Linked DNA regions of Homo sapiens: all the other regions are linked to region 3. Evidence: fine-mapped expression QTL. A gene starts in region 3. Each other region holds a variant in brackets. All regions are shown on one strand. Distances are between the middles of the regions.

Evidence for each region. PIP is the estimated chance that this variant, and not a neighbour inherited with it, causes the effect.
Region 1: its variant is fine-mapped to the expression of GSDME in thyroid (GTEx, PIP 0.94).
Region 2: its variant is fine-mapped to the expression of GSDME in whole blood (TOPMed, PIP above 0.99).

What each region holds. Positions count from the first base shown.
Region 1 is chr7:24,722,126-24,724,883 of GRCh38, reverse strand. All of the region lies in intron 3 of GSDME (gasdermin E), which reads left to right. Among named protein-coding and RNA genes, the nearest start is that of GSDME, 34 kb to the left of the region's middle. RefSeq lists an enhancer at 1-500. The variant AG/G (reference allele first, on the strand shown) is at 1,748.
Region 2 is chr7:24,715,604-24,718,361 of GRCh38, reverse strand. It overlaps GSDME (gasdermin E), which reads left to right. Exons shown (of 10, transcript NM_001127453.2): 5 at 988-1,108. Among named protein-coding and RNA genes, the nearest start is that of GSDME, 40 kb to the left of the region's middle. RefSeq lists an enhancer at 95-682. The variant TTAA/A (reference allele first, on the strand shown) is at 1,592.
Region 3 is chr7:24,756,039-24,758,796 of GRCh38, reverse strand. GSDME (gasdermin E) reads left to right here and starts at 1,333. Exons shown (of 10, transcript NM_001127453.2): 1 at 1,333-1,401. It overlaps LOC124901820 (translation initiation factor IF-2-like), which reads left to right. Exons shown (of 3, transcript XM_047421177.1): 2 at 860-1,135; 3 at 1,228-2,473. The coding sequence ends at 1,941. RefSeq lists silencers at 184-333, 1,144-1,723, 1,734-1,783 and an enhancer at 834-1,063.

The sequences.
Region 1 (2,758 bases), 34 kb after region 3:
TCATTACTGCAAGGCGGGCACCAAGCCTTTCATGAGGGATCCACCCCCGTGACCCAGACACCTCCCACCAGGGCCCACCTCTAGCACTGGGGATCACATTTCAACATGAAACTTAGAAGGGACAAACATTAAACCACATTGGAGCAGGGAACCGATTCCGGGATGACTCCAGGTCTTTGTGTTATATCGACCTGCCAGGTACGCGCAGAAGGGCAACCTCACAGTAGAACTGGGTGGGCGGAGTTGAGCCAAGCCCCTGAGTGAGGAGAGGGAGTTCTTCTCGACTGAGTATGCACCCCCTTCCCCTGCCTCCAGACTTGCTCCTTTGGGGCTGGCCCTTTCTGTTGAGGATATACGCCTCTGCCTCAGTGGCCTCCTGTTCTTGCTTTCACGTTGCCGCCCCCGCCAGGAAGAACAAGGAGCCTGCCCTTAGATGTGTGAAGCGGATGAAGAACCTCTGCTTGTTCATTTTCTCCTGGAAGAGCTTCTGCTCCATTTTCCCTGTCTTTGGGCATTGGCTCCTGGCTGGACTTGGGGAGAGGGTCTCATTCCAGTCCTGCCCGGGTTTATGTGATAAACCATTCATTTTATCCCCCAGCTGGGTGGATAGCACAGGGCTAGGCACCAATAAAAAGAGCAAGTACTTTGTCCTCCAGGAGCTTACAGTCTGTCCAGAAGGCCTTTTTTTAAAATACTTTTTTTTTTTTTTGGAACTGGGCAATCTATTCACATGGTTTAAATGTCAAAAGGTCAAAAGAGAAAAGGTGAAAAGCCCCTCCCCGCCATCTGGTTCCCCACCCAAGAGGCGACCACTACTAATAGTTTTCTGTGTCTCTAAAGCCATTCTGTCTGTGTTGCTCAGTGGCTCTCACAGGGCCCGAGAGGAAAGAAATCAGGACAAGTTGGGGAAGAACTGTCAAATGGCACAGGGCGGCAGCCACGAGGAGAGTGAGATGGGCTTGGGGAGAACAGGCAGGCATGGATATTCTGATAAGGATTCCCAGAGGACTTGGGTATAACTTGCTTTTCCAGCCTCCATCTACTGGTCTGGTTACATAGGCAAGATATTTACATATAGAAATGAACATAGCAATACAAGAGTTAATAGAGATGAAGATTCAATTCCTAGTACAGCCCAAGGGTGCCCTCACCCAGAAGAGGGAGACAGCAGCTATGGGTGCTATGGCCATGTGGGCCATTGTAAAAGACCTGGGCTTCACAGCTGTGTGACTTTGGTTACTACCATCAACCTCTCTAGGCTCTTTTTTTTTAAACTCTTCTGAAACCCTCAACTGAGAGTTTTAAATGTTTTGTTTCATGAACTCTATTAGCAGTTGAAGAAACCCATGGGCCTCTTTAAATGCTTATAATAAAATATATAAGGTTATACAGTAAACAAATTGCATTGAAATTTGGCTGGTTTCTGCACTAGGCGGGCACAGGGGAGCCCTGTTGCATGGTGATTTCTGTTCTGAGGAGGGCCAGAGCCAGGGTCTGGTGACCTTGAACTGTTCTGGGTCTGCACCTGAGAACACCGTCCCCAGGGGACACCAGCTCTCCCCCTGGGGCTGCTTGGGGCTTGGTGGAATTGACTGAGGGAGGAGATGGGGAAGAATTCCCTCCCGAGATTGCTTTTCAGAGAGTCAAACGAAAAATCCATTTTCCCTGATGTGTAGCTTCCCCGCTGTCCCTGTGGGGCCTCTCCTAACTGAAGATGATTAAATATTTCCAGCATTTGGTTTCCAAA[AG/G]GTGGCAGCACTGTCCTGGGAAACAGAATCCCAGTGACTTGGGTGGAAGTGTTTGCTGCTAGGTGGATGATGCCTGCAGTTTCCGGCAGCCCTGCCTTGGTTGCCCAGGGAAGGATTCCCAGTGGCCTGCATGAGCTGTGGCTGTGTGACACGTTTCTGGTCACCCGAATCCTAGCCTTGGAGACAGTCTCCGTCCCTGGGCGAGCTTCTGTTCCTGCGCTGTGGTGGGTCCGCCCCACAGAGACCTTTTGAAGGCAGCGACTCAGCAAGCGTCTCAGGACTGCCCTGTCATCGGATACAGCAGGCAGTTGCCTGCCCACCTGCGTAGATGGCTGCCCCTCTCTTTTGGTGTTTGAGGTGGGGGTTCTGGAGGGAGGTGGGCATTTTAAGCAGTGGAGTCTTGAGTAGTCTAGGCTGAGCTTTTTCTTTTCAAACAATTTCACACTGGCTAGGAGCAGTGTCCAGTGTTCAGTGGATTCTGTTTAGGGCGGGTAGGAGGGCTGTGATTTCCAATCCAGCAGAGTCACATCAGACTCCTAAAGGCGGCAGTTGTGGGGTCGTCACCAGGCGGTGATGTGTCTGACGTGCGTCTAGCTGGGAGGAGCCCATGCCTTAGTTGTGAGGGCACAGACAGACGTTCAAGAATCTGCTAGAATTTTGAGCAATAGAAGGAAGAGACCATTGGAAAGGGAACAGTTGAATGTATGTTCTGACCGGTGGTTACAATGGCTTTTATCTTTAAAGTCTTTGCCTATGGGACCAAGACATGCAATCCCTTAGGAAGATCGCATCTGCTATGCACCATTTTTTGATCCAAGCTGCAGATCCTCCATTTCCCCCATCTTCCGTGTCTTCTGTCTTTCACACGTGGATGCACAAATACATATGTACACATTCATTCAACCAATAGAGGAAAAAACCTCACAAGTTTTATTTACTCATTTATTCCAAAAATATTTCCTGAGCTCTTCCTACGTACTAGGCATTGATCCTGGCCCTGAGATATGCAG
Region 2 (2,758 bases), 40 kb after region 3:
TGGACTAGGTGGCCATCAGCCCCAAACTCTTTCTCCTCCAGCTTGCCATGGTGGCTGATATTTTCTTAGAGATTTACTTCTTGGGATGACTTTTGGCTTTTTCTAGAGGAACTCAGAAAGTTGTATTTGGAAGGAGCTGGAGGTAGAGGTCTGGGGCCAGCACTCTTACTGGGTTGGGGCTGGGTAGCAGCGAGGGAGGCGCCGATGGGAGATGGCTCAGGCCGGCCCTGCTGGTGCTCCTGCCACAGTCACTTCCTGCCAAAGTGTTGAAGCCTTTCAGAGTCAGGAGGCCAGCTGCCATTTCTCAACCCAAAGCAACACACTCTGACCAGGATCAAGTTGCTAAGAAAAGTTCTCTGATTGCCAGTGTTTGGCCAACAAATAGATTCTCATCTTCCTCTCACCAGGACATCGTGGGAAGGGGTCCTGTTTGTGAGAGTGTTTAAAGGCAGGAGCTTGGTGCCTGACTTCTTGGCATTTCCTGCCTCTCCTCCCTCCGGCCTCTTCCCACTTCCCTCTCTGTTCCTGGTTTTATCAGCACTGTGCACCATCTACAGGGGTCTGGAGTGATATGCACGGGGTAGGGGGCCCTCTCAGCTAGGTTCTCCCAGTCCAACTTGGCTACTGTTTAAGGTTTTCATTAGGATTTCAGTTGTTTCCATAACCTGTGATGGAGGGAATTGGGAGGTGATCTTACGTATCGTATGATCTTTGCACAGCACTGTAGACCTAACTTCACTGTATCCCACGCTCTATAATCTCGCTTTGATGCCACCAGGTTGGCCGTTTACTTGGGAATTTGTGTACTGATGCCAACAAGGATTGAATCCCCCCATCCCCCATGCTGGCTGGCTCCTCTGTTCCACTCGGTTCTGTGGACATTGCTCAGCATCTCTTATGTATAAGGCACGAGGCTGGCTGCAGTGGGGAACAGAGCAGCTTGGAGAGCCCGAGTGCACAGGTGGGAGTGTGCGCTTTTGCCCACAGGTGTCAGCGACGGAGGATGGGAATGTCACCAAGGACTCCAACGTGGTGCTGGAGATCCCAGCTGCCACCACCATTGCCTACGGTGTCATTGAGTTATACGTGAAACTGGACGGCCAGTTCGGTGAGTGCCACCTCCTATGGGTGCTGAGGGATCCCCAGCAGAGGATCCCTCAGCAGAGGGACTTGACTGCTTTCCAGAGGACTCGACTGCTTTGGAGACTGTGGGAAGAGAGGGAAAGAGGTCTGAAGAGCGTAGATTGTCCCAAGACATGGTCCCTGGACACATGGGCTGCACTGGGGGAGGGGTGTGGTGAGGGATGCCTGGAGCAATGCCACCCTCTCCTCCAACATTGGTGTGGGGCAAAGTTCCACCAGCACAGTAGAGGGCTGGGCTGTGTCCTCTGGGCATCAACCTGGGCTCTGCATCAGACACACTGGGCATCAACCCCGGTGCCATGATGTCCTATGAGGTCTCAGGCAAGTTGCTGAATCTTGCTGAGTCTTGGCTTCCCTGTCTCTGGAAGGTGAAGGGCATTTCTTCACAGGGCTGTGTGAAGATTTAATGAGATGAGGCCTATGAAGCGCCTGGCACAGTGGTCATTTA[TTAA/A]TTCCTCCACCTTTGCTATTAATAGCATTATCATCATTATTGTTACCCCACCTCCTCTCCACAAGTATGAAGCCAGACATGCTGAACTTGACTTTCCTCTGCTGATCACGAGTGTGTTCAAAGCGCAGAGACCCAGCTGTTGTCACGGAAGAAAATCCAAGCTTTGGTTCAGCGTGTCTGCTCACTTTAGGTGTTCACAGCCCCTTCCCTCCTCATGTTCCCAATGAGAAGAGGTTGTGTTCACTCATGAAAGCTGTGTGACCGCTCCTTAGGGACATGAGTGGGTAAATGTAACATAATAAATTGTGAAGTTTTTTAGGTGTGACAATGGTATTATAGTTATATTTATAAAAATGAGTCATCCTATCTTTGAGAGATGTACACTGAAACATTCACGGATGAAATGGTAATATGTCTGTGGTTTGATTCAAAAATAATATGAGTGGAGCATAAAGGGTGTGAGCATGGGCAGCTGCCGAGGGAAGGAGGCTTGGCTGAGAGGGGACAGTGGCTGAAGCTGGCTGATGGGCACACGCTGGTTCACGCTCCTCCTCTCTATTCCTGTGCAGTTTGACATTTTCTGTAACAGCAGTTTTTAAAAGGGCCGTGATAGACCACGCACATGCCTGCTGCTGCCTCCTGCTTCTCCCCCATTTGTGGAAGGCGGGTGGGGGGCAGTCTCCCGTGAGACAGCTCCTGCCCTCGCTAAGCCCACATGAGTCACTACGCCATTCAGCAGCCACTAGAGGGACTCAAACAGAATGCTCAGTGTCCTCGTGTGCTGCTGTCCACAAGCTGAAGGGTGTTGAGGATCCCTAGGAGAAACAGGCGAGGCACAGAAGGAGTGCACAGAGTCTCCCTCTCTCATTCTGCAAATGAAGAAGCCTGCATTTTAGGGCGGTGAAATGATTTATCTGAGGTGACAGAAAGAGAAAGTGTCAGTTTGAAGCAGTTGGTCAAAGAGGTCTGTCAGGGACCAAGAAATGCTGAGAATACCAGGTGTTGTGGCTTCCTTGAGGCCCGTAGTTCCAAATTTGTGTCCTCTGGGGCGTTTTCGTTATTATTGTCATCTTTCTCTTTGAAAAGACTTGTCTTCCAAAAAAAGTGCATCATGAAGAGGATCAAATTGTTCTTCTAGTCTCTGTTATCTGTATGTGGTAAGTA
Region 3 (2,758 bases):
TGGTGAGTGCAAAGAGAAAAATAAAGCAGAGGAGGAACTAGGAGGTGTTCCCGTGGGTGGGTGGGCAGCACTTTTAATTTGGATAGTCAGGAAAGGCTTTACAGTGAGGTGGATAATTGCAATCTAGAGATATGTTTAAAGCATAGCGGGGCCCAAGGGAAAGCGCTGCCGGGCTTCTCTACCTGCCCTCCCCGAACAGCCTTTAAGACAGCCACACAACTCCATACTGTGTGAGCTCTCGCAGGGCAGAAATTTCATTTTCTCTTACTCTTTGCTCTCAGCTTAGTAGAGAGCATTGCACAGTGAAGACGATACACTGACTGAAAGTGTCACTGAGCAATGGGCTCGTAACCTGAGGCACACAGAAACCAAACTGTGGCACAGGCTTTTGAGAAAAGAAAAACTTCTATTGCCAGTCAACTGGCAAGGAGACAAGAGGCAAAGCTTAAATCTGTCTTCTGGACCTGGGAGCGGGTCAGGCGTTTTTGGCATTTCTAACCAGTCCCAGGTGATGCCAATGCAGCCTTCTGCGGGGCGCGCGGTGTTCACAATTAGAAAGCTTTCCCTCTTGCACACGCCCGGGAGATTTTGGCTCTGCCTCGCTGTAACAACTTAAGTAATGGTTAATCGGTTTCAGCTGGTCCTAATGTTACAAAAAGAGCTAATATTTAAGTCAGTTCATCAGAAAGCAATGTTTGAGCACCAGCTATGCTGAGATTCCCTCGTTCAGTATTCGTTGAGCACCCAGTGTGTGAGAGCGCCTGGTTTTGCCCTCAAGGAGCTTAGAGTGGAGTTTACAGGAATGAATCACTGATTAGCGGCAGGCCTAAGTGTGGGCACTGTCGCACCACACACCCAGATACTACTCCAGGCACGGGCATTAGGGGCTCCCACAGGCTGGACAGGCCTTGGACTTTCCTGGTTGAACCGTGAGGCCGCGGTGTCAGTCCACACTCCACTGTGGGTGGCGGGTTCGGCCCCGCGAGGAGGCGCCGCTCTCAAACCCCACGGTCCCGCGCAGCGAAGAGGCGAGGCGGCCGCGGAAGGCAGGCGCAGCCCACTCTTCCCGAGAGGCCCCGACATCTCCCGGGTGAGTCCCGAAAAGCGCGCGGGGACTCCGGCTGAGCGCTGGGCCGTCAGCAACCCGGCTCCCAGAGAGTCACACGAAGGAGGGGAAGCGGCTCTCTCTGGGGCTTCTGGGAGGTCTGGCCCGGGCCCCTCCCGCAGCCTCCGGCGGCCAGTCCCGCGGCTCTGGGGCGCCCGGACCGAGCAAAGGTCCCGGCGGGCGGGCCCTCTCTCCGCCCTCCCCAAGCGCCCGCCCCCCGCCGGCCCAGCGCAGGCTCCTCCGACTCCGCCAGCGCAGGGGGCGCGGCTGCCGGGGACCCAGCAGCGGGCGCGCGGGTAAGTGCGCGGCGGGCGCGGGCTGCGGGATCCGCTCCGGGCTCCACTCCGGATCCTCTTTGGTCTGTTTGGGTGTCCCGGGCCGGGGGCAGCCGAGGCCGCGCGGCGCTTTCTCTCTGGGCCACCCTCCCCTCGCTCCTTCCTAGGGGAGACGAATCGATTGGCTGCCCGGCCGCCGGAACGGCAGGTCCCGTCGCTCCCCTCGCCTCCCGCATTCCCGGCCCGGTCCCCTCCCATCACCGCGTCCCGCCCCAACTCGCAGTCAGCATCCCCTTCCCATCCTCTCCCCGTCCCCGCTGCCACTTCCTTCCTTGGATGTTGGAAGCGCAGCTGGTATTTTCGTTCTCCCAACCCCCCAAACCCCCCCTCCCCATTCGTTCATCCTTTGTGTTCCGGTCTCTTCTCTGGGTGCTGCGGAGGCTCTCCCGGCTCGGGGGCGTGTGTGCAGGGAGGCGGACCGCGGAACAGATACGGAGTTCAGTCTCTCTGGACGGAAAAAAGTCCCCCTCCACTTTGCTCCGGTATCTAGAGAGCTCCTAGCTTGGGGAGGAGGCCAAGCCCCACTCGGTGTGCCTGGCATGCGCTGGAATGGCTCTCAAGAGCTGCCCGCGTGGCTTCCTTTGGTCTCCATTTGAGGACCTCTGACCCTTTCCAGAGCCGCTTGCCGTCTGCACCCCGAGGGGAAAGACTAGAGGGCACCTCTTAGAAAAGCGCTGGTTGTGGACTGAACACACCGACCACCCACTCCTCCAGAGTCTACTCTGTCCAGAATAGTGAATGGGATAATGAAAGGGATGGATGGCTTGCGGTCGCTGTCCTCGAGACGCAGGCAGGTGGGGCAAGTCCAAGTGGAATGAAAGGAGTGCTGTGGGGTTGGAGAAGCAGCTGAAGAGTGAAATTAATTGTCTTCACAATCTACCACCACCAAGCTCTTTTTCTAAAGGAGAAGTTGAGCCCAGACCATTAGGTAGATCTGAGAGAGAAAGGGCCCAACCCCCTAGCCACGGTCCCTTGGCTAGGTTCTTTGTTATTGTTGAGAGAGGGTCTCGCTCTGTCACCAAGGCTGGAGTGCAGTGGCACTATCCTAGCTCACTGCAGCCTTGAATTCCTGGGCTCAAGGGATCCTCCCATACACCCGTAGCTGAGACCGCAGGTGCCTGCCACCACACCGCATCTTCTCTATTCTTACCCAGACTGCCCTCTGTTACCCACTCCACTTCCCCAAAGCCTTTGGCGCCTCACTCTCCTTCTCCTTTCGAGCTCCTGCCTGTCTTATGACCATCATTGCGTTCACATACCGATTTTTATTTTAGAAAGAAATGATGAAATATTAATTTGTCTTCTCATTAAAAATGAG